Linked DNA regions of Homo sapiens: all the other regions are linked to region 1. Evidence: fine-mapped expression QTL. A gene starts in region 1. Each other region holds a variant in brackets. All regions are shown on one strand. Distances are between the middles of the regions. Region 1 holds the start of PRRG3 (proline rich and Gla domain 3). Region 2 overlaps CD99L2 (CD99 molecule like 2). Region 3 has its middle 80 kb from the start of MIR4330. Region 4 overlaps FATE1 (fetal and adult testis expressed 1).

Region 1 (7,904 bases):
CCACCATCTCTCCAGAACCTCCATTTCATGTATCCAGCTCTCCAACCACCGGCTCACTCCTTTTAGTATTATGACAGTCCTCTGACCCCTGTGGGGACCCTCAAACCAAAGATTCTACTGTTGATTTCACTCTCCTTCACCAAACCCTGATTCTGTCCTTATCTCCCTCCTTACCCAGCCTAAAATCCATGGTCAATCATTATCATTTCTCCCTTGAATCCACATAAAACTACTGTGTCCCTCCATTATATCCCTGTACTCATCTGGCAAAACCCCAACCCTGATGAAATCCAACTCTACCTACTCTAAATATCCACAAGAACAATTGAATATGGTTGGAGAAAGCCATGCACATATGTTGAGTAGTTTCACTTTAAAATAATGACCATCAACCCTCAAGTGGGCCCTCCATGCAGCCCAGAAATCACGCTACAGTTCCACAGAACATCCACTCTCTTGGCTCCCAGAAGACGACTATTTCAAGCCTTCTCTCCTCAAACCACTGACATCCCTCACCCCAACTCCCAACTGGTGGCTTGGCTTTCTGTGTCACTGGGAAAATAGAAGCCATCAGAAGAGCACTTTTCCAAGCTCTGCCATCGCCTCTCCCACCTACCTACATCTGTGTCTCTCCCTCCTGCATCACCAATTTTTCCCACGTTACTGGCTCATTAGCATACAAACATGTTACAGGGCTGGAATTTATCTCATATTTTAAAAATACTTCTATCTTGTCCTCTCATATCCCTACCACCCCCAACCCCAGCTTCTCTGTTCTCCTTCACAACAAAACTCCTTACAATACTTGTCAATCATTGGGTACTCGCTGTTTTCAATTCCTTTTTTCCTACTCTTGTCCCTCCACATTTTCCTGGAAATGGCCCCTGTAAAGACATTCATGACCTCCACATTGACAGACATAATGCTCAATTCTTTGTCCTCTTCTTATTTGTCCAGTCCGTAGGATTGGAATAGCTGCTCACCGCCTCTTTCCTGATACACTTTCTGCAGTTGTCTCTACGTGTTGCTGCACCCCTCCTGCCTCAACATCACTCCTTACTGGCTCCCTTGCTGGCTTTTCCTCGTCTAAATGTAGGATTGCCTGGGGCTTCGTTCTGGGGCTGGTTTGCTATCTCTACATTCATTATCCTGTGGATCCAATCCAGTCTCATGACTTGTAATATGAACGAAATGTTACTCATTCTGTGATTATATCTCCAGCCTTGATATTGCCCCTGAACTTCACACACGTCTATACAACCCATTCCATCACTGTTTTTCTTATCTCAGTTAAAGGGCCTCCATCCTTCCTGTTCCCTTGACTGAGAACCTTAGTGCCATAATTGATTTCTGTCTCTGTCCTAGCTCAACTCCAAACTGGCATCAAACCCTAATGACTCTTCCATCAAAATCAATCTTGAATCTGCTTGCTTCTTACCACCTCCACTGCATTGCCTGTTGTAAAATAGAAATCAGATCGTGGTAACCACTGACTCAGAATCCTCACTGTCTCTCCACATGACTCTGACTAGTAGCCAAAGTCCTGACAGTGGTCTACAAGGCCCTGCATGATCTCTTGCTACCCCCATCTTAACTACTCTGACCTAGTCGCCTACCATCCTCCTCTCTGGCTTGCTTCACTTCAGCACACTAGCCTCCTGCCTAACCCTAGAACATGCTAAGCTTCTGCTCCCAGGGCTCTCGCACTTGTGAATTTCCCAACCTGGAATAGGATGGCCCCTCAACTCTTTCAAATCTTGGTTCAAATGCCATCTTCTCAGTGGCACATTTCCTGACTACCTTATTTGAAATCTCTGCTTCACTTTTTCTTCATGGCACCAATCACCATCTAGCATCCTGTATCTTTGACTTGTTTTTCTTTTTTTTGTGTCTAATATCCATGAGGTTAGGAGTTTTTATTTAATTTTTTGGCTTCTGTAATCCCAAGTCCTAGAACAGTGGATAGCACGTAGTATCACTGAGTAAATGCTTGATGTAGGAGTTGTTTCAGTCTGTCTTAACAAAGTAGGTACTGTGGACTGGGTGGCTTGAACAATAGAAATGTATTGTCTTCCAGTTCTGGAGGCTGGAAGTCTGAGATCAAGGTGTGGGCAGGGTCAGTTTCTCCTGAACCTCTCTTGGTGGCTTGTGGATGGCCACACTCTCCCTGTGTCTCCACATAGTCATTCCTCTGTACATGCCTGTGTCCTAATTTCCTCTTCTTATAAGGACTCTAGTCACACTAGATTAGGGCCCAGCCTAATAACCCTATTTTACCTTAATAACCTCTTTAAAGGCCCTATTTCGAAGTATGATCACATTCTGGAGTACTGGGGATTAGGACTTCAACATGAATTTGCAGAGGGACACAACTCAATCCATGACACCTGATTAACTTGTTGATCGGTTTGCAGAGATGGAATGAGTCTCTTACAGGGTAAGGATCAATGCTTAGGCTCAGTCAGGACATAAAAGGATGGGAGCAGCAGAGCTCAGATAAAGTTATCCATTCAATTCTGGAATGGATGAGTGTTGGGGAAAGAGTGAAACTCTGGGAGTAAATGAGGTTGTCAGAGAGTGCTCCTCTTAGCCAAAGGGTGAGGCACAGGGATGGGGCTGGGGAGGGGCAATGTGGAGGAAGGTAATGGAATTGGTGGTGATGAGACATGAGGAAAGAGGCAACTGGTCAAGGCTTGCAGAGGGGAGAAGGTGAGGAATCACAAGTGGTGGGTGACTGAGAATTCTGTTACCTGGGATAGGATCGGGGATATTGGAAATGCCACCCATAGGCACGATGGCTTACATACTTCGTGGGACCCAGTGAAAGTGAAAATGAAGGCCTCTTGTTCAAAAAGCATTAGAATTTCAAGATGGTGATAGCACAGCCTTGAGCCAGGTGTCCAGAGCCCTCTTAAGCACAGGGCCCTGTCTGACTCCATGGGTCATACACCCACAATTCCGGCTCTGCCGGAACAGAAATGGGGGCAGGTAAGAAGGCAATGGAGGCCTTCTCAGCCCCAGCCCCTCCAGCCTCAGCTTGACAAGTCTCTAGAGAGCACCAGCTGTGGATGAGGTTCTGTGCGAGATGGTAGGGACACAGGAAGAGACAAGGTCCCTGGCCCCAAGAGAGGAGGCAAGTGTGCACGTAAGTGAGCTACCAAATGAACACAAGGTAGCTGGATGCAGGCCAGCTGATGTGCATTAAGCTCACACTTAAGCGCCAGGCACATTCTATGTGATTAGCTCCACTACCCGCTTAGCAACGCTTTGAGGCAGGCACTGTTAGCATCATTCTCATCTGAAAGGTAAGGAAACCGAGATGCAGAGAGGTCAAACACTTGCTGGAGATAATAGAGCCTACTATGTAGTACCACCAAGAGGTGCAGCAGGCACTACGCTCCAGAGGCACTGCTATTCCTCCTCCCCCACCTTGCTATCCACCGAGGCCCCCATGTTCATAGTCTCTGCAGATAGTCCTGAGAGTGGAATGGCGGACTGGGGTGCAGGAAGGATCCTGCAAGACCTCACAGTAGAGATGTCATGCGCACTGTGTGGGAAGAATGAATGCAAGTGCTCCAGGTCCACAGTGGGAGGAAAGGCATTCTGGGCAGTGGGAAGTAGAAGTAGCCTCATGTGGCTGGAGCCAGAAGCTAAAGTGGGAGTGCCAGAAGGAGGGCAGAAGCCATAGACCCTTGTGCACATACTGGAAGAGCTGCTTTTTTAACAGTCAAGTGCACAAGGGTCTATGCGGTGTTAAGATCACGATGGGAACATGCTGGTGGGCTAGGAAACTCAAGAGGTTAGTTCCAGAAGAGTCTGTGGAATTCTGCCCCACAGGCTCCGGAGGCATGGGGGGAAGGCCATAGAAGAGCTGTCGTGGGTAAGGAAGATTCCTGCAGCCGTGAAATAGCAAGCAAGCTAGGGAAGAACTCTAACAGGAGGCAGAAATGGAAGGGAAAGCACCATGCGGGGAGAGAAGTGTAGAGGCAGGCATCGGGGGAGCTAGGGGAGCCAGGCCCTGGGGGTTGGAGGGGAGGCGGCCGGTGGCAATGAAGGCCTTCGCCCACCCCTCTTCCGCCCCCTGGCAAGGCAGGTTGCTAATACCCGCCCTGGGATAGGGGTGGGAGTGGTTCTGGAACCGCCTTCTGAGACTCATTCCCATCAAAAGCAACACTTGGGGTGGAGGGAGGAAGAGGACGCCAACCCCAGTGCCTGGCCGGGTTCTAGATGTGCAGAGAACAAAAAGGAACCCTAAAAACCCAGCATCCCCTTCTCCGAGGGAGGCTTTCCTAGACCCAGAACCTCAGCCCACCCGGAACCCCTTTGCCCCTCTCTTAGCAGTGGACCTGTCATGTGGTTCCTCCTGGACTAGTGTAATCTCTGCTATGCGTCTTGTCCTGCCATGCTGAACTTCTCACAGTGCGGCCTCCGAAGGAGCCCCCATCTAGCGCTCCTTGCAGTCGCAGAAGATTCCTTCTCCCCTTACTGAGCCTTAGAGTTTTCCAAACCCATTTCCTCCTTCAAATCGCTGCAGCCTCGCGAGGGAGGCAGAATTCTCCCCATTTCTCGGACTTTGCAGGAGAGAAGCCTGCCTTCCCGGGGCAGGGTGGGGGTAGGTAAGTGAAGAAGCCAAGGTCACCCAGTCATTGGCGGAACGCGGCCTCGACTCGGTCCTTCTTCTGAGGGCCCTGTGGATCCCTGGCAAGGCAGGCCTAGGTTGCAGGCTAGCCCCCCTCTCTTTTCGTTGGCCCCAGGAGCCCGGCGGGCCTGAATGGCAGGTGAGCCCGGGGGGTGGGGACAGGACGCGGGTTGGGCTGCGCAGGGACGCCTGGCGCGCGGGCCTTGGGAGCGGCCGCCGGAGCTCCCTGCTACGCCGTATCTTCCGAGGGCCCACGCCTTGGGTCACGACTGGACCAGGGCTTTGACCAAGGGTCCTCTGTGTGCCCCAGGCCCGCCAGTCAGGCCCCGCCCCCCGGCGGCACGGGCGGGGGCAGGGGCGGCGCCGGCAGAGTGGGGCGCGGGCGCGCGGTGCTCGGTGCGCGCCGCCGCCCCTCCGGCCCGGCTTGCCCGCCCGCTCTCCCAACCCCCTCGGCCCACTCCGTCGCCCCCACCCCTCCTTCCTCCACTCGGCCAGGCGGCCGGCGGCCCGGTGCGCGGGGCAGCGCGACGATTGCGGCCTGGCGATCGGGGCACTGCGGTCGTGGCGCGCGAGGCGCGGGGCGCGAGGCCAGCCCTGGAACGGCGGGGTGTGGGGGGCGGGCAGCTGCGGAGCCCCCAGAGGAAAGCAGGGGCAGGCAGGGGGGTGCCGAGGTAATGGGCCGGGCCTGGGCGCCCGGCTGCGAGGGGCGGGGGTTCCAGGCGCACTTCGGCCCTGGAGGGGCGGGCGACAGGGTGCCCGGGGCGGTGGGAGGGCAGCGGGGAGGGGAGGAAGGGAGGGAGGAGACGGCTGGGCCGGACCGGGGGGCTTGGCCGACGGGGAGCAGGTGGGCGGGGACAGGGCCCCTGCTGGAAGAGGCGCAGCAGCGAGGTGGCGGGCTGCGTGCGCAAACAGGGCGGCCGCCTTCTGGGCCCGGAGAACGGTGAGGCCATTTGGGTTGGGTGTCCCAGTCCCGAGGGCACGGTTCGGTATCCAGGGCCAACGAGCTGGGTGCAGGGCATTGTTGAGGAGGGAAGATCTAGAGGCCTGTCCGGGCCAAGGGGATGGGGCGTATTGAACAGCTCCGGGAGAAGAGTGTTGCTGGGTCAGGGCGCTGGTGTCCAGCGAAGGTGGGCGAGGACAGGCACTTTCAGGGCTGGCCTGAGTGGAAAGGGACAAGGGGGCCCCAGAGTTTGAGTTTGAGCATAATTTGGGAGTTGTCGTGTCACTGGGTGGGTCGATGAGTCATGCGATTTGGAGAACCCTTTCCTGGCGATCAGTTCTGAGGGATGGAAATAAAGTCTAGGGTTTGGAGAAGTGGTTTGGAGGCCATGTCTTGGGACACCAGGTGCTCTGGTGGTCACCAGGCTTCATGTGAGGGACTTTGGGAGTTGTGTCCCAGAGGCCTGAGATTCAGAAGCTTCAGTCTGGGGTGGAGTTAAGCAAGGTCTTTGTGGTGGCCAGTTCCCTGCCTTCCTTCCTTTCCAGGCTGTCAGGATTCAGCTGTGTTCCTGCGGGGAGTGGGTTAAAAATTCCTTCCGCCTACAGTCAGCTTTACAGTATCCACCAGGGGCATGGGGGACATATACATGTGTGGCTGCAGCATCATTCTTTGTCGTGGAGCCCTCACGATTGCTTCCTTATTGTTGCCATAGTAACTGTCTACTGATGGTGTATTTATAGGGGAAGAAGCAGGCGCTACATTTTGGGGAGGGAGGGGGAAGAGGCCTCGTGGCAGGCAGCAGCAGCAGTGAAGGTGGCTACAGAATTGCTAATGGAGTGGGCCATGCCATGGGAACTGTTTTGGGGGTGTTCCTGGCTCGACTGAAGCTTAAAAATGAACTGGTGACTTTAGCAGGTGCGTCAGGATAACATGTATTCGGGTCTATGATAGGTGTGACATATAGCCACCTTTGACCAAGGCTAGGTGTGTGGGGGACAAAAGATGGATATATGTAATCTATTATGTAAATTTTTCTCCATTTTTTTAAAAAACCACTGCAGTTTCCTTTGATAAGCATATTTTTCTCTCTTCCCTTATTAAGACTATATGCATTCTTCTCAAACCCAGATACAACAGCTCCATTTTTCTTCAAGCAAAAAATCCTTGCCATGAGGCATACTATATCCACACCCTCACCACATAAAGCTCAGGTATCCATAATGCAAGCAGAATTTTGAGATCATATTCCATCTTGGTTCTGACAAACATTGAGGGCCAACTGTCTCACAAGGCAGGCCATCTGTTGACAAATTCACATGTTGATAGTTTTGAGGGAGATTGTTGCAGGGTTCAAAAGAGAAAGCCCCTTGATGTGGCGTTTCCACAAATAGATGTCAGATCTGCTGTTTTACCTTTAATTTTCTTTTCTTTCTTTTCTCTCTTTCTCTCTTTCTTTCTCTCTTTCTTTCTTTCTTCCTTCCTTCCTCCCTCCCCTTCCCTTCTCCTTCTTTCCTTCCTCCTTCCCTTCCCTTCTCCTTCCTTCCTTCCTTCCTCCCTCCCTCCCTTCCTTCCTCCCTCCCTCCCTCTCTCCCTCCCTCTCTCCCTCTCTCCCTCTCTTTCTCTCTTTCTCTCTTTCTTTCTTTCTGGCTTTGTAACCCAGGCTGGAGTGCAGTGGCGCAATCTCAGCTCACTTCAATCTCCGCCTCTCTGGTTCAAGCGATTCCCCTGTCTCAGCCTCCAGAGTAGCTGGGACTACAGGCATGCACCGCAGCATGCCTAACTAATTTTTGTATTTGTAGTAGAGATGGGGTTTCACCATTTTTTGGTCAAGCCAGTCCCAAACTCCTGACCTGAGGTGATCCGCCCGCCTCAGCCTCCCAAAGTGTTGGGATTATAGGCATGAGCCACCGCGACCAGCCTAAATTATTGATTTATATCCTACCTGTTTGCCAAAAGGATTAGGTGGCATATTATAAATGCACAATAGGACACTGGAAACATAAATAGAAAGCTGTATACCACATCGCAGGACAGAAGCATATGTGCTTAACAGCTGGGCTTCCAGGGTGCCTGTGCTTGACTGGCAATAGTGACGCTGAACTTCCTGGCAGCCTAGGCAAAAAGGAGGGCTCAATGGATTCCACAGTTCACGTGTCTTGCATCCAGTTAGTCATCAAACCAGAGCTTCTGCTTGGGGAGGGGAGCAGTGGGGTGATTGCTCCCAGATGTGGACAGCTCAGCAAGGGCTCTAGAATGTGTGTATGAGTGGGCGTGTGTATTGTGGGGAGGGACAGAGGGAGCAGTGTGCTGTGACCATGGTTTAAG
Region 2 (7,904 bases), 890 kb before region 1:
AAGTTTATTTATACAGTAAAAAGGGATAAACCGCTAGCCTTACTAACAAACATAAAAGTTAAAAAAGATGATATGCCAATAAAAGGACTGAAATGGGACACTGTAGATCTTGTAACCATTAAAAGAATAATAATGGAATAATATGAACATTTTTTAGCTCACATATTTGACAACTTGGAAGAAATGGACCAATTTCTCAAAAACCACCAACTATCAAAATACAACCTAATCCTGTGTTCATGGATTAGAAGACACTAAATTGTTAAAATGGCAATGCATACTATCTAAAGCAATCTACAGATTCAATGGAATCCCTACCAAAATCCCAATGACATTTGTTGCAGAAATAGACAAATTCATCCTAAAATTCACATGGAATTTCAAGGAATCTCAAACAGCCAAAACAATCTAGAAAAAGAACATAGAAGAGTCACACTTCCTGATTTTAAAACTTACTACAAAACTACAAATATCACAACACGTGTGGTACTGACATCAAGAACAGACATACAAACCAATGAAATATAATAGGAAGCCCAGAAATAGGCCGGGTGCAGTGGCTCACGCCTGTTATCTCAACACTTTGGGAGGCTGAGGCAGGTGGACTGCTTGAGCCCAGGAGTTCAAGGCCAGCCTGGCAACATTGTGAAATCCCATCTCTACAAAAAATACAAAAAATTAGCCAGGTGTGGTGGCGTGCACCTGTGGTTCCAGCTACTTGAGAGGCTGAGATAGAAAGATTGCTTGAGCCCAGGTGGAGGCTGCAGTGAGCCGTGACCACACCACTGTACTCCAGCATAGGCGACAGAATGAGACCCCGTCAAAAAAAAAGAAGAAGAAGAAGGAGAAGAAGGAGAAGGAGAAGAAGGAGGAGAAGGAGGACAGAACACAGGAAGGGAGGGAGGGAGGGAGGAAAGGAAGGAAGGAAGGGAGGGAGGGAGGGAGGAAAGGAAGGAAGGAAGGAAGGGAGGGAGGGAGGGAGGGAGGGAGGAAAGGAAGGAAGGAAGGAAGGAAGGAAGGAAGGAAGGAAGGGAGGGAGGGAGGGAGGGAGGGTGGGAGAACAAAGGGAGGGAAGAAGGGAAGGAAGGGAAAGGGGAGAAAGGAAAGGAAAAGGGAAAGGAAAGGAGGAAGGAAGGAAGAAAGCAAGCCCAGATATAAACCCTTGCATATACGGTCACTAGATTCTCAACAGTATGTCAAGACCATTCGATCGGGGAAAGGACAGTCTTTTCAACAAATGGTGCTGGGAAAATTGGATAGCCACATGCAAAGGAATGACTTCGGACCCTGACCTATACTACATACAAAAATTAACTCAAAATAGATAGAAGATTCTTAGACATGGTGGCATGAAAAAAAGAAATAGTTCAAAGACCTAAATATAAAAGCTAAAACTATAAAACTCTCAGGAGAAAATATTATGAAAAAGTTTCATGATACTGGATTTGATGATGATTTCCTGGATATGATACAAAAGCACAGGCAACATCAACAACAAAAACAAAATAAATAAATTGATCTTCATCAAAATTTAAAACTTTTTTTGAGACAGGGTCTCACTCTGTCACCCAGGCTGGCTGGAGTGCAGTGGCACAATCATGCCACTCAGTGCAACCTCCGCCTTCCAGACTCAAGTGATCCTCTTATCTTAGCCTTCTGAGTAGCTGGGACTACAGGCGTGCACCACCATGCCCAGCTAATTTTTGCATTTTTTGTACAGACAGGGTTGCCCCATGTTGGCAAAGCTGGTCTCAAACTCCTGGACTTAAGCCATCCACTTGCCTTGGCATCCCAAAGTGCTGGGATTATAGGCATGTGCACCATGCTCAGCCTAAAATTAAAAACTTTTGTGCATCAAAGGACAATATCAAGAGAGTAAAAAGATAACTCACAAGAATGGGAGAAAATATTTACAAATCTTACATCCAATAAGGGATTAATATCCATACTATATAAAGAACTTATACAAGTCAACAACAACAAAAACCCTGATTTTAAGGCTAGGCACAGTGGCTCATGCTTGTAATCCCAGAACTTTGGGAGGCTGAGGCAGGTGGATTACTTGAGTCCAGAAGTTCAAGACCAGCCTGGACAACATGGTGAAACCCTGTCTCTACCAAAAAAAAAAAAACAACAACAAAACACAAAAATTAGACAGGTGTGGTGGCACACCTGTAGTCCCACCTCCTCAGGAGGCTGAAGTAGGAGGACTGCTTGAGCCCGGAGATGGAGGTTGCAGTAAGCTGAGATCATACCACTGCACTCCAGACTGGGTGACAAAGCAAGACCCTGTCTCAAAAAAAAAAAAAGGAAAAAAACCAAAAAAGTGGTTTTAAAATGGGCAAAGGACTTGAATAGACATATCTTCAAAGAAGATATACAAATGACCAATAAGCACATGAAAAGCTGCTCAGTGTCACTAGTCATTAGGGATATGCAAATAAAAACTGCAATGAGATACCAGTTTGCACCCATTGGGATGGCTATTATTAAAAGAAAAATGAAAAATTACAGGTATTGGTGAGGACATGAAGAAATTGGAACCCTGGTATATTGCTGGTGGGAATGTAAAATGGTGCAGCTGCTGTGGAAAACAGTTTGGTACTTCCTCAAAATGTGAAACAGAGTTACCATATGATCCAGCAATTCCACTTCTAGGTCCATACCCATATGAATTGAAAGCAGAGACTCTAACAGAAATCTGTACACCAATGCTCCTAACAGCATTATGCACAACAGCCAAAAGGTGGAAACAACACAAATGGCCATCAACATATAAATGGATAAGCAAAATATGGTATATACATATAATGCAATATTATTCAGGCTTAAAAGAAAGAAACTCTGGTACATGCTGCAACATGGATAAACCTGGAAAACATTACATTAAGTGAAATAAACCAGACACAAAAGAACAAATATTGTGCAATTCTGCTTATAAGAGGTACCTAGAATGGGCAAATTCTTAGAGACAGAAAGTATAGCAGAGGTTACCAGGGGCTAGGAGTAAGGAGAAATGAGGAGTTACTGTTGTAGGGGTATAGGGTTTCTAGCTGGGCTGATGAAAAACTGTTGGAAATGATCATGGTAACAGCTGCATAACATTGTGAATACCGATGATCCTCCATATCCATAGGTTCCACATCCAGAATCATGTGTTTGACCAACCATGGATCAAAATATTCAAAGAACAAAAAACAAAAAATAATACAACTATAAAAATAATATAAATTTTTAAAATACAGTATAATAACTATTTACATAGCATTATATTGTATTAGGTATTATAAGTAATCTGGAAATGATTTAAGCTATATGGGAGGATATGTGTAGGTTACATGCAAATACTATGCCATTTCATATCAGAGAATTGAACATCAAAGGATTTTGGTATTTGCAGGGGGTCCCAGAACCAATGCCCAGCAAATACTAAAGGAGGGACAAATGTCTACTAAGTACCACTGAATAATACAGTTAAAAATGGTTAAAACAGTAGATTTTATATGTATACTTACCACAATAATAAAAAACTCAGCTGGGTGCAGTGGCCCACACCTGTAATCCCAGCACTTTGGGAGGCCGAGGTGGGTGGATCACCTGAGTCAGGAGTTCGAGATCAGCCTGACCAGCATGGAGAAACCCTGTCTCTACTAAAAATATAAAATAAGCCGGGTGTGGTGGTGCATGCCTATAATCCCGGCTACTCGGGAGGCTGAGACAGGAGATTTGCTTGAACCTGGGAGGCGGAGGTTACAGTGAGCCGAGACCACGCCATTGCACTCCAGCTTGGGCAACAAAAGTGAAACTTCGTCTCAAAAAAAAAAACAAAAAAACCCCAAAAAAACAAAACCTCAACCTCCAGGACTTGGTGATTTACCTGGAGAGTTCTACCAAACATTTAAAAAGGAATTATCACCAATTGTATACAATCTCTTCCAGAAAGGAGACAAGAGGAAATACTTCCCCACTCATTTTGTAAGGCCAGTATTACCCTGGTAACAAACACAGATAAAGACCTGTATTAGTTCGTTTTCACACTGATATAAAGATACTGCCTGAGACAGGGTAATTTATAAAGAAAAGAGGTTTAATTGACTTACAGTTCCTCATGGCTGGGGAGGCCTCAAAAAACTTACGATCATAGTGGAAGGCAAAAGGGAGATTGGCATCTTCTTCACTTCACAAGGTGGCAGGAGAGAGAGAGGAGCAAAGCGGGAACTGCCAAACACTTTAAAAATCATCAGCTCTTGTGAGAACTCACTCACTATCGTGAGAACAGCATGGGGAACCATCCCTATGATCCAATCACCTTCCACCAGGTCCCTCCCTAGATGCCTGGGGATTACAATTCGAGATGAGATTTGGATGGGGACACAGAGCCAAACCAGATCAAGACCTTATTAAAGAAAAAAAAAACATATAGACTAATGTCTCTCATCAATTTACATGCCAAATCTTCAACAAAATATTAGCAAACAGAATAGAATGTATAAAGAGAATTAAACAGCATGAAAAATGGAATTTATTCCAGTCAGGCAA[G/A]TTGGATCAATACTTGAAAATCAACGTAATCTACCCTGTCAACAGGCCAAAGAAGACAAATCACATATCAATGGACATGAAAAAATCTAACACTCATTTATGGAAAAAAAATACTTTCAGCAAATTAGAAATAAAGGGGAACTATCTCAACTTCATAAAGAACATCTAGAAAACACCTATAGCTATCGTCAGACTTAATGGTGAAAGACTGAATGCTCTTTCTTTAAGGTCTGAAACACCAAGGACATCACTCTTACCACTCTTATTTAATATGGTACTGAAATGTCTAGCATTGCAATATGAAAAAATATATACAGATTGGAAAGGAAGAACTATATATGTTTCTATTTGCAGATGACATGATCATGTACATAGAAAATTCCAAGAAATCTACAAAAAATTTCTAGAATAAGTGAGTTCAGCAAGGTCTCAGGATACAAGTTCAACAATATTGATCACATATCATAGCAGTGAACATATCAAACCCAAAATTAGCCATTCACAATTGCTCCAAAGAAAATATTTAGGATGGGACGGTGGCTCACGCCTATAATGCCAGCACTTTGAGAGGCCAAAGTGGGCAGATCACCTGAGCTCAGGAGTTTGAGACCAGCCTGGGCAACATGGTGAAATCCCATCTTTACTAAAAATACAAAAGTTAGCCAGGTATGGTGGTATGTGCCTGTAGTCCCAGCTACTTGGGAGGCTGAGGTGGGAGAATCTTGCTTGAGTCAGGGAGGTGGAGGCTGCAGTGAGCCAAGATCACACCACTGCACTCCAGTCTGGGCAGCAGAGCGAGACTCAGGCTCAAAAAAAAGAAAAGACAATTTTTTTTTTTTTTTTGAGACAGAGTCTCGCTCTGTCGCCCAGGCTGGAGTGCAGTGGCGTGATCTTGGCTCACTGCAAGCTCTGCCTCCCAGGTTCACGCCATTCTCCTGCCTCAGCCTCCTGAGTCGCTGGGACTACAGGCACCTGCCACCACGCCCAGCTAATTTTTTGTATTTTTAGTAGAGACGGGGTTTCACCGTGTTAGCCAGGATGGTGTCGATCTCCTGACCTCGTGATCTGCCCGCCTTGGCCTCCCAAAGTGCTGGGATTACAGGCGGGAGCCACCGTGCCCAGCCTTTTTTTTTTTTTTTTTTTTTTTTTTTTTTTCTGAGACAGAGTCTCACTTTGTCGCCCAGGCTGGAGTGCAATAGCGAGATCTCAGCTCACTGCAAACTCCACCTCCCGGGTTCAAGCAATTCTCCTGCCTCAGCCTCCTGAGTAACTGGGATTACAGATGCGTGCCACTACACCCCGCTAATTTTTGTATTTTTATTAAAGACAGAGTTTCACCATGTTGGTCAGGCTGGTCTCGAACTCCTGACCTCGTGATCTGCCCGCCTCGGCCTCCCAAAGTGCTGGGATTACGGGCGTGAGCCACCATGCCCGGCTAGAAAAGAAAATATTTAAACATACATTTAAACATGTACCGGATCCTCTATACCAAAATTTACAGTGTTCTCAAGAAAAGACATCAAAGAAGACATAAATCAATTGAGAGACATACCGTATTCATGGATTAGAAGACTCCACAAAGTAAAAATGTCAACTGTCCCAAAATGGATCTATGTTTAATACACATCCTATCATAATCCCAGTAAGTTTTTTTCTAGACTAGGCAAAGACAAACTTAATCTAAAATTATATGAAAAGGCACAGGCCCTAGAAGAACCTTAAAAGAACTTGACAAAGCAGAATAAAGTGGAACAAATCACTCTAACCAATATTAAAGCTGAATTTATAGTTATAGTAATCAGGACTGTGGCAGAGGGACAGACAGACAGATCAATCAAACAGAATGAAGAGCCCAAAAAGACCCCAAATACACTCAAGTGATTCTTGATAAAGGTACAAAAGCAATTTGATAAAGCATAGTCTTTTGAACAAACGGTGCTGGAGTAATTGGGCATCAATAGGTAAAAACAATGAATCTCAACCTAATCCTCACACCTTATTAAAAATGAGCTCAAAATGGATGATCATCTTTACTTAAATATAAAGTTATGAAACTTCAAAAGAAAACATAAAAAAAATCTTTGGGACTGAGAGCTTGGTAAAGAGTTCACACAATTGACAACAAAGCCACGTTTCATAAAAAGAAAAATTGATACATCCACCTTGTGAAAATTAAAACATTTCCTCTGTAAAAGACCTGTTTAAGAAGATGAAAATATTCCATTTTCAACAATGGACAAGTCATCCAGACAGAAAAATCAATAAGGAAACAGCGGGCCAGGACAACACTCTAGACCAAATGGACCTAACAGACATACACAAAACATTCTATCCAACAGCAGCAGAATTCACATTCTTTTCAAGCACACATGGAACATTCTCCAGGATAGGTCACATGTTAGGTCACAGAAAAGGTCTTAATAAATTTAACAAGATTGAAATCATATCAAGTGTCTTTTCCACCCACAATGGTACAAAACTAGAAGTTTGAACAGAGAATTGGAAAATTCACAAATGTGTGGAAATTGAACAACATTCTCCTGAACAACCAACGGGTCAAAGAAGAAATCAAAAGGGAAATCAAAAAAATTTTTGAGACAAATAAAAATAGAAACACAACATACCAAAACTTATGAGATGCAGCAAAAGCAGTCCTGAGAGAGAACTTTATAGCAATAAATGCCAACCTAAACAAAAAACAAAGATCTCTCCAGGCACGGTGGCTCATGCCTATAATCCCAGCACTTTGGGAGACCATGGTGGGCAGATCACGAGGTCAGGAGTTCGAGAACAGCCTGGCCAAGAGACCAGCCTGGCCAACATGGTGAAACCCCATCTCTAGTAGAAACAGATGAAATAAGTAACAGAAGAACAATAAAGTCTATAAAAACAAAAGATGGTTTTTGAAAAGATCAACAAAATTGACAAACCTTTAGCAAGATTGACAAAGAAAAAGAGAGAGGACTCATTACTGAAATGAGAAATGAAAGAGAGGATATCACTAATGACTTAATAGAAATAAAAAAGGATTTTAAGGGAATATCATTGACAAAAGTATGCCAATAAATTGGGCAGCCTAGATGAAATGGACAAACTCCTGGAAAGATATAAACTACTGAAGCTGACCCAAGAAGAAATAGAAAATCTGGCCAGGCGTGGTGGCTCATGCCTGTAATCCCAGCACTTTGGGAGGCCGAGGCAGGAGGATCACCTGAGCACATGAGTTCGATACCAGCCTAGGCAACATGGTGAGACCCTGTCTCTATTAAATTAAATAAAACAAAATAAAAATAAAACTAAAACTCTACTAAAAATACAAAAATTAGCCAAGTGTGGTGGCAGATGCCTGTAATCCCAGGAGGCGG
Region 3 (7,904 bases), 610 kb before region 1:
TTGCCTCCTGGAGGAGCCCACCTGAGGCTATCTCCCTTGGTCCTGGATCTGCCTCAGGGACCACAGGGCCCAGCCATACCATTTGGCATCCTAGAGCTCTTGGCTCAGAGGGGGAAGAGGGAGCTGAGAAAAACATCTTTGCCTTATATTTGCTAGACCAGAGGTTCTCAACTCTCATGAGTATGGGTCTGAATTTCAGTTCAGAAATATTAATGTGCAAGAAATATATATGTTTCTTCTAAAACAAACTAATTACTGATGCCATATCTTATTCTTCCAGGATGTCAGAAAGCTTAACCTCAGGACTCCTCCAGGGTTGTGCCACAAATCAGAGACCTTGGACCTATGACCCCATCAACCCAGATGCCTCAAGTAGTCACTCACCCCATTCCCCTACCAAATTTTCTCAGCCACCTTGGAGTGCTCCAGAATCACCTGAGATGTGTGTTCAGTCTCTTGTTCTGCCCTCAGGTCAGACTCAGTCAGTGTCATTTGACCCTTACTATACCAACAAACAGCATTGACTGCACTTTATATGTACTAGCCATATTGCTGAGCATGCTGCATACACCTTCTCAGGTGGAGGCTGCCAAGAGTTGGGCTAACTGTTCTGGCTCTACGGTTAGACTACCTGTATTTGAATTGGATCACTGCCACTGACTGGTTGGGTGACCTTGGGTGAACCACTTATTCCACACTTCGGTGTCCAAATTGATAGAATGTCCCAACTTCATAGAGTTGTCATGAGGATCACAGATTCAAATACCTGCGAAGGGCTTGACATAGAGTAAGTACCACAAAGTATTTTGTACTATTATTAGTTATCCCCATGATACCATGAGCTAGGTATTTATTACAATGTTCATTTTATAGATGAGGGAATTTTGGCCTACAGAAATCAAGTAACTTGCCCAGGATCGTAGACAGAAGTGACAGAACAAAACCTCAAACCAAGGTGGTCACATTCTAGTGGTTAATGTCATTGAGCCTATGGCTACTGATATGGTTTGGCTCTGTGTCCCCATGCAAATCTCACCTTGAATTGTAATAATCCCCACGTGTCAGGGGCAGGACCAGGTGGAGGTAAATGAATCATGGGGGTGGTTACCCCCATGCTGTTCTCGTGTTAGTGAGTTCTCATGAAATCTGATGGTTTTATAAGGGGCTTTTCCCCTTTGTTGAGCATTCACATGAGATGCAAATATCTTCACAGTTTTTGACCACTCAGAGAGGTCCATCCACATAGCAAGTGTGCAAAAGAGGGGCCTACTTACCATGGAGAAGAACTCACAGGCTCAGAGAAGTGGCTTACCCAAAGTTATATGGTCACATGGCTCATCAGTGGGAGAGGTGAGATTTCCACTATGGCTAATTCCAAATCCCTCGCAAAAGTGTGTAGATATGAAAGGGTGAAGAAGGCTTTGGAAGCATTGAATTGACTCAGATTACTAACTCAGGGTAAAAACAAATGATGGCTCATGTTTCCGTTGAAATGACAAGCAGATGAGCAGCATTTTAGAATGAACTTGTTTGATGAGGATCATCAATGGTGAAATGTCAGTCTTCATCTTACTTGAGTTTTGAGCAGCGCTTGATACGGTTGCTCACTCCTTTTTCCTTTGAAACACCCTTCAATGGCTTCCAGAACACTCCTCTCTCCTGGTTTTTCCTGGTACTTTACAGATTATTTCTCTTCAGTATCCTTTGCTGGCTCCTCCTCATCAGCCTGTAACTTTTCCTCTTTTTTTTTTTTTTACATTTTTTATTGTGCTAAAATATATAAAACATAAAATTTGCCATTGTAACCATTTTAAATATATAGTTCAGTGACATTAATTACAATCACAGTGTTGTGCAACCATTACCACTGTTCATCTCCAGAACATTTTCATGATCCTAAACTGAAACCCTATACCCTTTAAGCAATAACTCTCCATCTCCTCCCCCCTCTGATAAAAGTGCTTATTAATTCCCATTCTACTTTCTATGTCTATCGATTTGCCAATTCTGAAGACCTCATATGAATGGGATCATATAATAATATGTGATCATTTGTGACTGGCTTATTTCACTTAACATCATGTTTTTCATGTGTATCCATGTTGCAGTGTGGATCGTTACTCGACCTTTTGTTTCTGAATAATGTATGTATATCCACATTTTTCTTATTCATTCATCTGTTGATATATACTTGAGTTGTTTCTATCTTTTGGCTACTGTGTATAATGCAGCAATGAGCATTGGTATACAAATACCTATTTGAATCCCTGTTTCCAATTCTTCTGGGTGTAAACCTTGTCCTCTTAATTTTGAAAGACTCCAGCAACCAGTCTTTGTGCTCTTCCCTTACTATGTTCTATGTGATCCCACCTAATCTCCTGAGTTTAAATACAACCCAATGCTGCTGTGTCCCAAATGCCTATCTTCAGTCCAGAAGTCTCCCCTGAACTCCAGACTTCTGTCTGCAGCTACCTCTTTGACTCCATCACTGGGTTGTCTGGTAGCGTCTCAAAGAACAGATCCACGCCAAACACTTTCTTGGTATTTTTCCCAAACATGCTACTGCTGTATGTTTAGTAAATGGCAACTCTGTTCTTCCATTTGATCAAGCCCCCAGACCTTGAAGTCTTTGCCTCTTTCCTCACTTATTACAGCCAACCCATTGACTTGTCAATCCATTGACCAATCCAACACAGTTTGTTGACTTTAATAATTTCACAGTATATCCAGATTCTGACCACTTCTCACAACCTCCATGACCACCACCCTGGTACCAGCCACCATCAGTCCTAGCCTGGGTTACTCTACTAATCTGCTAAATGGTCTCCTTGCTTCTGCCCTTGCATCTCTCACTCCATCATCTATTCCTACCCCAGCAACCAGAAGGGTCCTTTCAGAGCATAAGCCAGATTATGGAAAGTCCTTCAACGACGTAATCAAAGTTCCTACAATGGCCTACCTGATATGGCTCACTGTCTCCTTTGTGACAGATCTCTCTTCACTTCCCTCTTATTCACCACACTCTAGCCATACCAGCTTCCTTGGTTTCCTTCTAACACGCTGGACACACTGTTGCCTCATGTGATCTCATTTGCTGATCGCTCTGGCTCGAACACTCTTTGTCTAATCATATGCCAGTCTTTGCTCAAATGTCACCTTCTTAGAAAGTCCTTCTTTGACCCACTCGATTTAAAACTGTGCTCCTGCTCCCTTTCCAGTTTCTCCGTAGCACTTATCATCTGGCATACTCTATCTTTTACTTACTTACCGTTTGTCTTCTCCAACCAGAGCACCAGCTCTGTAAGAAGAGAGGCTTTTGCTTGTTCTGTTCTGTGATGTATCCTTAGTTCTAGAATAGCTTGGCACAGAGTAGGCACTCAATAAATATTTGTTGGATAAACACATGAATAAAAAAAAAAGTGTCATTTCAAACACAATCAACTGGGTACCACATCCTGTCTCAAACCAAAACTCTTTTTTCATAGTGCACTTCTATGCCGACTTTTTTGAAATCTGATGCCTCACTCCACACTCCCTCATCCCAGCATGGTTAAGGTCTCCATGTCCAAGCCCATATCTTCCCTGTGCTTTTCTCTGTATAAGCTTCATCAATATGTATGTATATGAGTCATTTTTTCCCAATCAAAACTGCCAACAATCTTGTCTGCACTTGCTGTCT[C/T]CTTTTTCTTACTTCCCACACATTCCTCACCTCACTCTGATCTGACTTCCTTTTCTATCATGTCACTAAAACAGTTTCTGTTAAGGTTCCAAGGCTCTCTGTGTCACCAAATCCCTTGGTCACTTTTGATCCTTATCTTTCTTCGCTCACATGCCTTCTTTTTGAAACCCGCTCTGTCCTTGACTTCCAGTCCCCAGCACTCTTCTGGTTTGTCTTCTATTGCTCCAACTGCTCCTTTGCAGGGTCTTCTTTTAGTCAACCTCTAAACAAAGAGTTTCTTAAGTTACAGCCTAAGACCTTCTCCTCTTCCTAGTGTTTACTCTAAATTTTCAGTCTCAGCCATCTATGGCTTCAGTCATCCCTGTACATAGACAACTTTCAAGCCTATACCTCCAGCCCAGACCTCTCCTGTGAGCTCCAGACCCATAAACTTATGGTTTGATGAACACATGTCCTCTTGGATATCACAAAAGCCCTTCAAACTTAACATGCTCAAAATCAAACTCATGATCTTCCTCCCTACTCTTTCTCCTTATATTCCTTCAGTGTTCCCTATATCAATGAATAGTACCACATTCATCCAATTGCAGAGCCAGAAATCCAAGTGTCATTCTTGCTGTCTCCATCTCCACCATATCGAATTCATCACCTAATTCTGACAATTTTACTTCCAAAATAGTGTATTTCAAGTTCACCAATTTCTCTCAATATCCACTATAACCACCCCAAGTCTAGCCACCATTATCTCTGGCCTCAACAACAGTAGCCTCCTAATTGACCTCTCCCTTTCCACTGTAGCATGCTCCAAGAACTCCCCATGCTACAGCCAAAGTGATCTTTTGAAAATGTGAATCAGATGATTTCAAATTACTGCTTAAAATTCTCTATGACTTCCCACAGTTCTTAGGAATCAGGCAGAAATCTTTTGTGTGGCATCTAGCTCTGGCATGTTGGCATCTAGCTCTGGCTCCTGTGTATACCTCCAGCCATACTTCTCACCTTGCACTTCTGTGTTGGCCCTCTTCTAGTTTACCAATAAATCCAATCCTGTTTGATCTTGCTATAGGGCTTTTGCAGACATTGTTCCCTTTGTTTGAAATGCTTTCCTTCTCATCTTTGCCTAGTTAACTTCTCCCCCCCTTTTTTTTCTTTGAGACGGAGTTTCGCTCTTTTTCCCCAGGCTGGAGTGCAGTGGTGCAATCTCGGCTCACTGCAACCTTCACTTCCCGGGTTCAAGCGATTCTCCTGCCTCAGCCTCCCGAGTAGCTGGGATTACAGGCATGTGCCACCACATACAGCTAATTTTTGTATTATTAGTAGAGACGAGGTTTCACCATTTTGGCCAGGCTAGTCTCGAACTCCTGACTTCAGGTAATCAACCTGCCTCGGCCTCCCAAAGTGCTGGGATAACAGGCGTGAGTCACGGTGCCCCGCCCTTCTCCTCATTCTTGATGTTCAGTGCAATCATAACTTTCTAAGGAAAGCCTTTCCTGACCTCCCTGATTCAGACAGATTCTCCCATCCTACTCCTTAATAGCACCATGTACTTATCTCTCCTTCGGAGCACTTTTCTCAGTTGCAATTCTCCATTTATTCATGGGATAATATAATTGATATCTATCTTTCCCATCAGACTAGAAGTCTATTATAACAGGTTCTTTTTATTTTTCTTCAGAGACAGGGTCTGTCTCTGTCACCAGGCTGGAGTGCAGTGGCATGATCATAGCTCACTGTAGCCCTGAGCTTCTGGCCTCAAGCAAGCCTCCCACTCAGTCTCTCAAGTAGCTGGAACTACAAGCGTGTATCACCAAACCCGGCTAACTTTTAAATTTTTTGTAGAGACAAGGTCTCCCTATGTTGCCTAGGCTGGTCTCAAACTCCTGGCTTCAAGCGATCTTCCCACCTTGGCCTCCCAAAGTGCTGGGACTATAGGTGTGTGCCACTGTGCCCAGCTGAGAAGGGGTTCTGATCTGTCTTTCCTTACCATTGTATTCCAGCATCCAATACAGTGCCTGGCACAGAGTGGGAGTTAAACAAATGTTTGTTGAATGAATTAATGACAAAGAGACTATTGGTGACCTTAATGAGAGCAACTTAAGAGGTGAGATAGGTAAAGGTAAGGGGCTGTGGTCAGAAAATGTGATGACTACATGAGGAATTTCAGAGGATCAGTACATTTGGGTCATGACTATGGAAGGGGTAGATTAGGAGTGGGGAGGGAAGTTTACTGAAATGAGATGGCTGGCACATGAAGCAGGGCCCACTACTCCTTGAAAGTCTTCATGGCCATATATGGTGACAGGCAGATGCAGGGGTATGAAGAGGGCTCCAGTGTTTCTTTGCTTTCCTCTCTTCCAAATTCAGGTCTCCTCAACAGTGGCCTTAGGCTCATTACTAGGCCCTTGGTTGTGGGTCCACAGAAGTGATAGCCACATAGAGGCAGCAGTTTCTCATAGACTGTCCCACAACTCCTCTTTGTCATTGACTTAAACAGCTAAACGTGCTTAACTTTCCATGTTTTCCTGCAAGCCCTGACTTGTCCACCACACCAGTGCTTTAGGGGGAGTCATTAGTAACTCTTGATCTGATCTTTCAATGCTCTCTTCTGGACCTTCACTTCCCAGCTCTTCCCACCCTTTTGCAAAGTCGGATTTCCCAGAATCCCCACAGTGGCTCTGCTTTCCTGACTGAACTATGACTGGTACAGTTATGGCTAGGTTCCTCTTGGACACCAAAGTCACCCAAAAGGATAGTCCAGCTTTGGAGTAGGAGGAAGACAGTAAACTAAATCTCCAGTGACTGAGGCGCCATGACTAGGAGGTCATTAGATGATGGCAACCAGGAGGGAAATAGAGTGGTGGAACCAACTAGATAGACTGAGTGGCTAAAAATTAGGGGGTTTTACATGCAGGTGGCAGAACAGTGGCCTGAGCAAAGCACTATAGAATGAGGAGAATGCTTACCCTTCTCCTACTCTTAGGTGAGGGGCTCCCAAGATACGCGGGTGAAAGCCAGGGCTCAGAATGAGAAGGTAGAGAAAGACTCCAGTTAAGAAAGCCAGACTAGAGTTTGATTTTATAGACTAGGGGTGGTTGAACAGTGCAGTGGCTGAACACCACTGTGCTGTTCATGTGTATGTGAAACAGCCACATACACAAGTGAGCTTGAGAGAATTGTTTGCCTCCTCTGTGCCTCAATGTCCCCATCAGTGCAATGAGACCATGATAGTACCTACCTTATAGGACTACTGAGGAAATTAAAGGAGTTAATGCATGCAAAGTGCAAAGAACAATACTCCCTTAAAGTAGTGCTTAACAAGTAATACATACTCACTGAAGTTTTTTTTTTTTTTTCATTTGGCCCTTATCAAAACTCTGAGGTGTCAGCAAGGTAGGGATTATTGCCCCCAGTTGAAGAATGTGATACCCTGAGAGGTTATGGAGTTTTCCAAGAATCACACTTAGGAATAGAGTTCAGACAAGTCCCTGGTCTCCTAACTTGCTGGCCAACACATTTTCTACCACTGCTCCCTGCATTAGGAGTTCTGAGAAATGGTGAGTGAACAGGTCAGATGATGAGTAGTGTTGCATAAGCCAGGAAATTCTTCTCATCAAATCATGCCTTCACAGAGCCCTCAGTTATAGCCACCCCACCTAACAGTCACCCAGTCTTTACCATCAGCCCCTTCAAGCTGGGGTTCATCCTTTAATTGTCTCTGATTCCAGGTCCCTCCGCTGTTGGTCCTCAGAGCTGGTGGAAGATTGAATCTGCCCTTACCTGACCTAGTACATCCTACTGAGTTCCTGTTGAGCTTAATGTTCAGACAAACTAGTGATCTGATTAGCCCCAGTGTCTCCTGCTCTGGTTAGCCCCCTGCTGCTCTAATAGAGGAGGAGGGAGATTAAATGAGCAATGATGGTGAGGTGGTGGAGCTGCTGAAGTGTGTTTATAGATGGATTTTTAATATAAAAAATAATGACAATTGGCACTGGCAATTAATATATAATGAAGGCCCAGTAGCTGGAGCTGCTGATAAGAGGATAATAAATTGAAGTGTGAGAAACCCCCAAACCAATAGAGTAAATATCTGGAAATATTCATACAACCAGTAACTATGCGCTTTCCTTTGCCATTGGTTAGGGTGATCCAAGAGGGGAGCAGACAAGCAGATAGCAGGAATTACCCTAATATCATGAAGGGCAGGGCAGAGTGGGATCCTTTTAGC
Region 4 (7,904 bases), 30 kb after region 1:
GTCTCCCTAATACCCATTATCTTTTTAATGCAATTTTTGAAGTATCTTAAGAAAATAAAATATTGTGACCATGAACTACGGTTCATAAAAAAGTTGCACCAATATCTGTGTGCTCCTCTTGAGAAAGATTAGTTATGCCTTATTGCAACAAACAGAGTGCAGTGGCAAAGTTCCTATGAAAATCCTTTACACAGAAATTGATCCACCTTCAGTTTGATGTTGTTACTTCGGAACAGAAGAGGGCTGCAGATATTTCTCAGGTGACAGGTGAGCCTTGGTTGTCTATTTTTTTGTAAGAATGAGGCAAATAGAAGAGCTAACCCAGTACTCTGTGCGCCTCAGTCAGGCCTCTCAAATGACAGGCTCTACTTCAGCAGGGTGAGCGGGTAAGGAACTGGCTGTCATGTGGGGCACCCTGAACCCTGCCAGAATGAAGACGGTTTTATTTTGTGTCACTTTCACCCCAGCTTTCTTATTCATTTGGTTCAGGTTTTGGCTTGGCGGTAAGTGCCTGGCTGCCAACCAGGAGTGAGAAGTGTGGATGACTGCTTCCTACATAGATCATTAGTTAAAGGCCCTGTTTTCCTCCCTCCCCTCCTTTCTTGTGATATGCCGCCATTGTCCTTGCAGGTCTAAGTCCTCTCTGGATGCTGCTGGCGGGGGCCTCCTTTGTCAGCTGAGTCCCATCTGCTTCCCATCCACAATGAGGCCTAGTTCCTCCATGGACACTTCCTAGATTCCAGAATTTTATTGAATTCTTTCATTAGCTGATGCCTCTTGTGTTGTCTTCTGTCTTATGGGTTTGTACTGTTTTACTGTCTTCACTGGCAATTAGTGGAGCCTTAACAGGAAGGAGTGTTAAATATGAGGGACATCGTAGTGTAATGGCTGAGAGTATAACCTCTGGACTGAAATGTCCTGGGTTCAAATTACTGCTCTGCTACTTCCTAGCTGTGTGACTTGGACAAGGTAATTAACCTCTCTGTGTTTCAGTTTCCCCTACTTTCAAAACGGGATGATAATGATACCGTTTCACAGGGCTGTGACGAGGAATCAGTCACTTAGTATTGGTAAGGGCTTAGAGGATGGCATGGTCCCTGGCATGTGGTGTGTGTTAAATAAGCAGCTTGTGAAACATTTCATCTTGAACTGGAAACCTAGAACTATGATTTGAGCCCAGGCAGGTCTGGCACCAAAAGCCACGCTCTTTTCCTCTATCCCCCACTGATGCTTCAAAGGCATCAGATGGCCCTGGCCCAAGGGCTCTGGGCCAGAGATGTACATGCTAGGGAGTTGTTGGCAGATGGATAAAAATGAAAGCCACAGGGATGGCTGGCTGAGCTTACCCAGAGGAGTTGCTGGTTTCCCAGTAGCCAGGGTTCTAGCCTTAGCCCTGACATTTACCACGCATCCTTGGAAAGTAAAGGCATCTCGCCAGGCCTCCATGGCCTGGGCTGCCAATCAAGGTTTTACGTTCTCCTTCAGTAGGTTGCTCAGCCTCTCAGCTAATACCTGCATGTGAAAGTTCTTGCAGAGGACAGGGACCCCTGTTACTGCTCCTCTTTTGCCACAGCCTGCCTGGATGACCAAGAGCTACCGAGGAGCATGGTGTGGGTGGGGTGGTGGCCAGCAGCCTGTGTGGGGTTCCCAAGCTTTCCTAGCGGCCTGAAGCTGCCAGCCCTTGATTCCAGAGACCAGGCACCATGTGATTCCCCATGGGGTGCACCATTGGCTCTGGGCAAACTGGAGAAGCCACTCATGTGGGGTTGGGCAGGCTACTTTACTGACCATTCCTTTCTTCAGGGGTCCCAGCTGCCAAAGCCCAGAATGCTGAGAGAATCAGGCCATGGGGATGCCCATCTCCAGGAGTACGCTGGCAATTTCCAAGGCATACGTTTCCATTATGATCGGTAAGAGCTGAGGGTCTGTGGGCCCTGGCTGCTCAGACAGGGCCCGGAGTGGGGCAGAGGGGCTGGTGAGCAGCCTGGCCAGGATGGAGTCATGAGGGCCTGGAATGCCTCCCTGTCAGAGACCATGAGTACCCTGGCTCCCTGCCCATTTGGGGCATCCCAGTGCTCTGCGGCCTAGCCGAGTTGGGCTGGACTGGGCTGGGCCAGGCTGGCTCAGGCTAGCTCAGGCTGACTCCCAGCCCTCAAGGCCCTAGGCCCTCTTTACCATGGAAGAGGACTGGAGGCTGATAGAGTCACTGTCCAAGAAGATCACGACCTTACCTGCTTGACCTCACTGCCTTCTTGTGCTCCCTGCCAGGGACCACCAGCAGCTTTGACCATCTGTCTTTTTTCTCTCCCAGCAACCCAGGGACAGATGCAGTGGCGCAGACTAGCCTGGAAGAGTTCAATGTACTGGAGATGGAAGTCATGAGAAGACAGGTGAGGAGGGACCCAATCGGTGGGTGCAAGCAGAATCACAGTGCCTTGGAATAGGCAGGGCTCGACAGCTGGGGTCCTGTAGTCCCTTACAGTCATCTTTCCCTTTAGCGCTGGAGGTGGGGCAGATTCCCTTCCTCTTCCTCCTCATCCCCATGGCTCTGACACCCCGCATAGATGTCCAGCCTCAAACTCACTGCTGTCCCTGAGATGCTGGTAGGGAATAGGGGCAGATAAAAGGTGGAGGAAGAGGGAACATACAAGGATAAGGGTTCTATGTCCAGAGAGAGAGTGATACCTAAGGGTCTGAGAGAGGGGTCGCCTTTGTTCAAACCAAACCCAGACCTTCTTAGGAGGAGATCCTTTCTTCCTTGGCTCCCCGGCGCAGCTGGAATGGGCTGGTCTCTTCCAGAGAAGGGAAGTGAACATAAGGGAGAAGGCAAAAGTGGGGCCTGCAGACGTAGCAGCCAGGTCTTTGGTCCCGCGGACCTGGCCCAGCCTCCTGCTTCTCACTAGGGGCGCTCCCCGCTCCACCGCCAAAGGGCAATCAAGCCCCTTCTTGCTCTAACTTTATGCTTTTCCCATGGCTGTGCTGTGGGCTTCTGGAGAAGAGCCTCGCTCAGCAGCCCTGCCTTTGACTCCTCTGCAGCTGTATGCAGTCAACCGGCGTCTGCGCGCCCTGGAGGAACAGGGCGCCACCTGGCGCCACAGGGAGACCCTGATCATCGCCGTGCTGGTGTCGGCCAGCATTGCCAACCTGTGGCTGTGGATGAACCAGTGATCGCCCCAGCGCGGCCTCCGTATTGGAGCCCTCCCTGCTTCCCCTTCTTTCTTTCCTCTTTCCCCAGGCCGCCACTGCCCTTGCCCCTTTCATCTCCCAGCAGCCCTCAGGAGCGTCAGGATCATTTTCAACTCTGGTTAGGCCTCCTACCTGGGGAGGCCAGGTCACTGCACTGGGAGGTCCTGGCTGCTGCGAAGCTGGAGGAGGACTGCGTGGGCTGAGATGCCACCCTTTGAAGGGTGAACAGCATGGCGGCATCTGGGCCCCACAGTAACACCTAGTGGCAACCTTGCCTTCCTGACCTCAGCGGCCCTTCTGTTCCATCCTCTGTGGGCAGGGGTGTGGCTTTGTTTTCCTCCCTCGTTTGCTTCCACCTCGTGCACAGCGCTCTGCACAGACAACACGCTCAATAAAAGTTCAGCCATAGCAGCAAAACCCTGTGGCTGAGGTTCCTGTGTCCAGCACTCACTGGGGGCAACAGTGGAGGTGGGGTGCGCTGGGAAACAACAGCTCCTCTTCACAGAGACCTTGTGGCTGGGACTGAGCCTCTGCCATTGCCCCAGGGGCCCTGGTTCCCTCCTCCCTTTCACCTCCCCCACCTCCCTGTCCCCAGCCCCAGCTTTGCAAAGTTCTTCCTGTTGGGCTCATGCAAACCAGTGCTTGTGGGGGTGTGGTTCTGGGAGCATGTCTGCGCTGTGTTGCAGGGAAGCAATCAGAGGAAATCTCCTGAAAGGGACCAGAAACCTCATTTGCGCAAGAGGAAATTGAATTCCAGAGAGAGGAAACATGTCCCTGGGTCATCCAGTGAGACAGGGCCTGGATGTGAGTTCTCTGGCGTGAGTTCTCCTGAGTCCTACGCTAGGGCTTGGCCTGCCTCCTGCAGACAGACTCACTGGAGATGAGGTCCTGCCTCAGCTCTGGAGGCTGAACGGGAGCTACACATACCCCTCACCCTACCCACCACACACTCTGGGTCCACAGCCCATGAAGCACACCTCAGACAGGGTGAATAGCTGGGCTGTCCAGTGGGGCTGAGCCTGAGAGGTGGAGAATGTTGCCTGCCATGTGGGGGCCTGACCACAGTGCAGATGTGCCTGGTGCAGGAGGCCTGCAGAGGAGCTGCAACCCCTTTCCCTGGGACCAAGGGCTCAACACACATGTCTCTGACCCAGAACTTTCTCATTGGCTTTAGTTGCTAAGTGCACCTTCCCTAATCCCCCAAATCTGTCAAGGATTCTCCATCTGTAAAGACTGGGAAGCGTGTTAGTCCCTAGGTATGAAATGAACGTGTGTGTCTGTGTATGTGAGAGAGAGAGACAGAGAAGAGACAGGGAGAGGAGGGGAGGCGAGGAGAGAAGAAAGGATGGAGGAAGGGAGAGGCAGAGAGAGAGATACAGTCAGCGATACAGAGCGGCAGAGGGAGGGAAGTTAGAGTAGAGAGAGAGAGAGAGAGAAGCTTGAGTCCCAGAGCCTGCTCTGTCCCTGCTCCACCTCTTTCTCTCTGGTCCTCAGTGGGCTCCTATACAATGAGGGGGTTCTTCCACGCCTGACACTCTAGGGCTTGCAATACTTCTAAGATGAGGATGCAGGGCCTCCTGTCAGCCCTGTGGGACACGAGGCACGTGGCCCCTGGAGCCTGGGCCCTGCTCAAAGCAGAGAAAAGGACACCTAGGAAAGAAACACCAGAGAGAAAGATTCTCTCTCTGGTCCCAGAGCACAGAGGTAATCAAGTGCCACAGGAAGCCCCTCTGCAGAATGGGGAAACAGCAGCACCCAGATATGAGTACTTCTGGCCAGGAGAGCCAAGAGG[G/A]CCAGGGAGTACCAGGGGTGTTCCCTGTCCTCTGCAAATGGGGCCTGGGGCCCCAGGAGTCACCCATGGGCTAGATGGAAGACTGGGGGACCTCCTTGCAGGCCGCCCCTCCCCTTCCTGCAGCTTCAGGACAGAGCAGGACCCAAGATACAGAGGAATATTAAGGGAAGCAGGGAGATGGAGCAGGGGCAGCACGTGCAGCTTCTTGCCATCAGCCCAGTGCTCCAACTGCCATGAGTCCAGCCTTCACACTGTCTACCCCGGGCTGCCCCTTTCTCCGGCCCCAGTCAGGCCCCACAGGGAAGCTCAGAGGAAGAGGAGGCTGCAGCTGGGAAGGGCTGGGTCTGCCCTTTGGGACCTGAGTGTTTGTGAGCCTGCACAGACATGGACATGTTTGCAGAAAAAGTCTGGCTGAAAATATGTTGTGAAACAAAGGTTCACCCTTGGGAGCAATTTAGTTGAGTTGCAAACAAACAGCACGGCAGTGCCCTAGAGGAACGTCTCCTGAGCCAGGTGGGCTCATAAGGAGCCCGTGGCTGGGCCTCCACCCTGCCTTTCTGTGTGACCATTTGGCTGGTTCCCAGCAGGGCTGGAGGCCAGTTCCTAGAAGGGCATTCCTGCTCTATCTCTAGAACTCCCTGCCCCACCTAGAAGACCTCAGGAAGCTCCTGAGAGGAACTGGAGTCAGAGCTGCCCAGTCTGGGCCCCTCTGCAATGTTCCTTAAGGGGCATGGGGACCATATTGTGGGGGCTGGCACATCTGTGATTCCCAAGCCTCTGGGAGATCCAGGGAGGCTCGGGGGCAGAGTGCCAGGAGGCAAGTTGGCACCTCCTGCCTGGCCCTCTGGCTCTGACCCACCTAGAGCATTTGCCCATCTGATTGCATTTCTCTGCCAAACTGTCCTTGCCTTGCCCAACCTCTCCACCCTGAGCCCAGCCCTTCCTCCAGCAAGCCATGAACTTCCCCATGGTGAAGCAGGATGCTGTGGGTGAATGAAGGAGGGAAGGAACTCATTCTTACTTGGGGGTGGGGGAGGGGATTCTCCTGGCGTGCTGTTTTTCTCTAGTCTTTGAAGCTTCCCAGGGGCTGCCCAGGCTTAGTATTAGAGGGGTACACATCAGTCCTCCACTGGATCAGTAGCTTCTTGAGGGCACAAGGTAGCCTGCATTGTCTTCTGCACTCCTGGAACAAGTAAAGGACTGGCAGGATGGCCTCTGATTAGGGTCCCCAGAGATTGAATCTAGCCCTGGTCTTCCCCTCCTGGCCTTTAGGGTATGCCTTCTGTTGAAAACCTTTCCCCACCAAAGGGAGCCAATTCTATTCTTCGCTTCCTACGGCACACCTACTCTGTGCCATGCACTTTGCATCTTAAAAATATTTAATTACGCAAGTTGTGCATGAACACATTCTCCCCAAAAAGGCAAACATTGCAGGCCTAGCTAACACAGTCCCTTGCACCCCAAATGCCAAGTCCCTCCACTGAATTATTTCCCATGGTTTGGTTGGTGCGTATCCTTGCGAACTCTCTATGCTGTTCCATGCAGATTATGCGCACCTGTATGTATCCCAGGCTTTGCACGCAGGATGTCATTTAAGCCCCTCCTAGCAGCCCCCTGAGGGAGTGGCTTGTCTTCCCAGCTGGCTGCGCAGGTGGGCAAAGCTTTAATCCTCCATTTATGTAGTTCTCTGCCCTGCCAAGTGGGCCCCTGGTCCCCCGCCAGTCCTGGTCAAAAGCTGAAACTCAATATTCCAGTTCTTTTGTCACAGGCTGGCTTCCTGGCAGCTGGTGGAAGGTGGGAAGAGGAAGGTGGGCATGTGAGGAGGGGTACATGAGGGTGCATGGAGGGGACTCTGGTGTACCCAGGAGCAGCCTGAAATCCTGGCTTCTTGGAAAGGAGCCCAAAGCTCACTGCCCCAAGGGTCTTGCCTTGTTTCCCTTCCCTAACCCCAACCCTTCTTGGAGGCCAAGTCCAGGGGACCTGGCAGAGAAGGTATGGATTTTCCCCTCAGGCCAGCCCTACCCCAGGTACCTCTTCTCTCAGATTTCTCCCTGGCTTGACCTCAGATCAGGTGGACTGGTTGAGATTGTGCCAAGGTCTGGAGGCAAGTACACCAGGGCTGTGAGCTGGTGGGGTTGAATCCCCAGACACATAGCTCTGAGCATGCTCCGTGCAAGGCAGGGCTCCTCAGGGAGCTTGGGAGGGGCTGGCTTCTGGATCTGGGCAGGCAAGCAGCTTCTACAGCCAGGCAGCCCAGCACCCAGCCCTCGCCTGCCAACAGCCTGGGGTGTACAGTGCCCACAGACAGGCCAGCTTCTCCATTGGGCAGGTGACACCCTGGGGCAGCGTCTTGAGTTTGCCTTAGCCATGAGCATGAGCTCTTCTTGGCCTCTGCCAGCTTCTCCTGTTGGCCTCAGGCAGGGTGGGGCAGCTCTCTGACCCCGAGGCTGCAGCTAAGTTGTCAGGGGCTCAAGGGCCCCGCTGGCCTGAGGGGCAGGAATGGCAGGAGATCTCTGTTAGCTCCAGATGCCGATGAGCCCCCAGTGGTTTGTCTCTGACTGGAGGTTGTGCAGAAGGACCAACGGATGCTGACTGGCCAGGAGAGCCCCTGCCTCTGAAGCCATCTGATTGGTGAGGAAAGCGGCTGACCTTGGGCTGATACCTTTCTGTGACCACAGGCCAGTTACCTCCATGGGGGTACAGAACTGGAGTCCGTGAAAAGTGCGTGGGCCCTAGAACCTGGCTTGACATGGGTCTTCATATGTGTCATCTGCCGAGGGAGCTGAGGAAAGTGGCTGTGTTGGGAAACTTTGTCCCCTGTTAAAGCAGCCAAAGAAATTATTTGGGGCTCTAGGAGGGTGGAGGCCCTGAGTGCCACACAAAGCTTGTCCTGAAGCAGCTGGGACTTTGTCCTTTCCCAGGAGGG

Evidence for each region.
Region 2: its variant is fine-mapped to the expression of PRRG3 in hypothalamus (GTEx, PIP 0.93).
Region 3: its variant is fine-mapped to the expression of PRRG3 in cerebellum (GTEx, PIP above 0.99).
Region 4: its variant is fine-mapped to the expression of PRRG3 in minor salivary gland (GTEx, PIP 0.93).

Annotation. Positions count from the first base shown.
Region 1 is chrX:151,689,966-151,697,869 of GRCh38, forward strand. PRRG3 (proline rich and Gla domain 3) reads left to right here and starts at 5,493. Exons shown (of 4, transcript NM_001372163.1): 1 at 5,493-5,579.
Region 2 is chrX:150,797,218-150,805,121 of GRCh38, forward strand. The region is part of intron 4 of CD99L2 (CD99 molecule like 2); the gene reads right to left. Among named protein-coding and RNA genes, the nearest start is that of CD99L2, 97 kb to the right of the region's middle. The variant G/A (reference allele first, on the strand shown) is at 4,540.
Region 3 is chrX:151,084,767-151,092,670 of GRCh38, forward strand. No RefSeq gene overlaps it. Among named protein-coding and RNA genes, the nearest start is that of MIR4330, 80 kb to the right of the region's middle. The variant C/T (reference allele first, on the strand shown) is at 3,680.
Region 4 is chrX:151,719,592-151,727,495 of GRCh38, forward strand. It overlaps FATE1 (fetal and adult testis expressed 1), which reads left to right. Exons shown (of 5, transcript NM_033085.3): 3 at 1,804-1,910; 4 at 2,312-2,390; 5 at 3,037-3,603. The coding sequence ends at 3,168. Among named protein-coding and RNA genes, the nearest start is that of FATE1, 7.5 kb to the left of the region's middle. The variant G/A (reference allele first, on the strand shown) is at 4,979.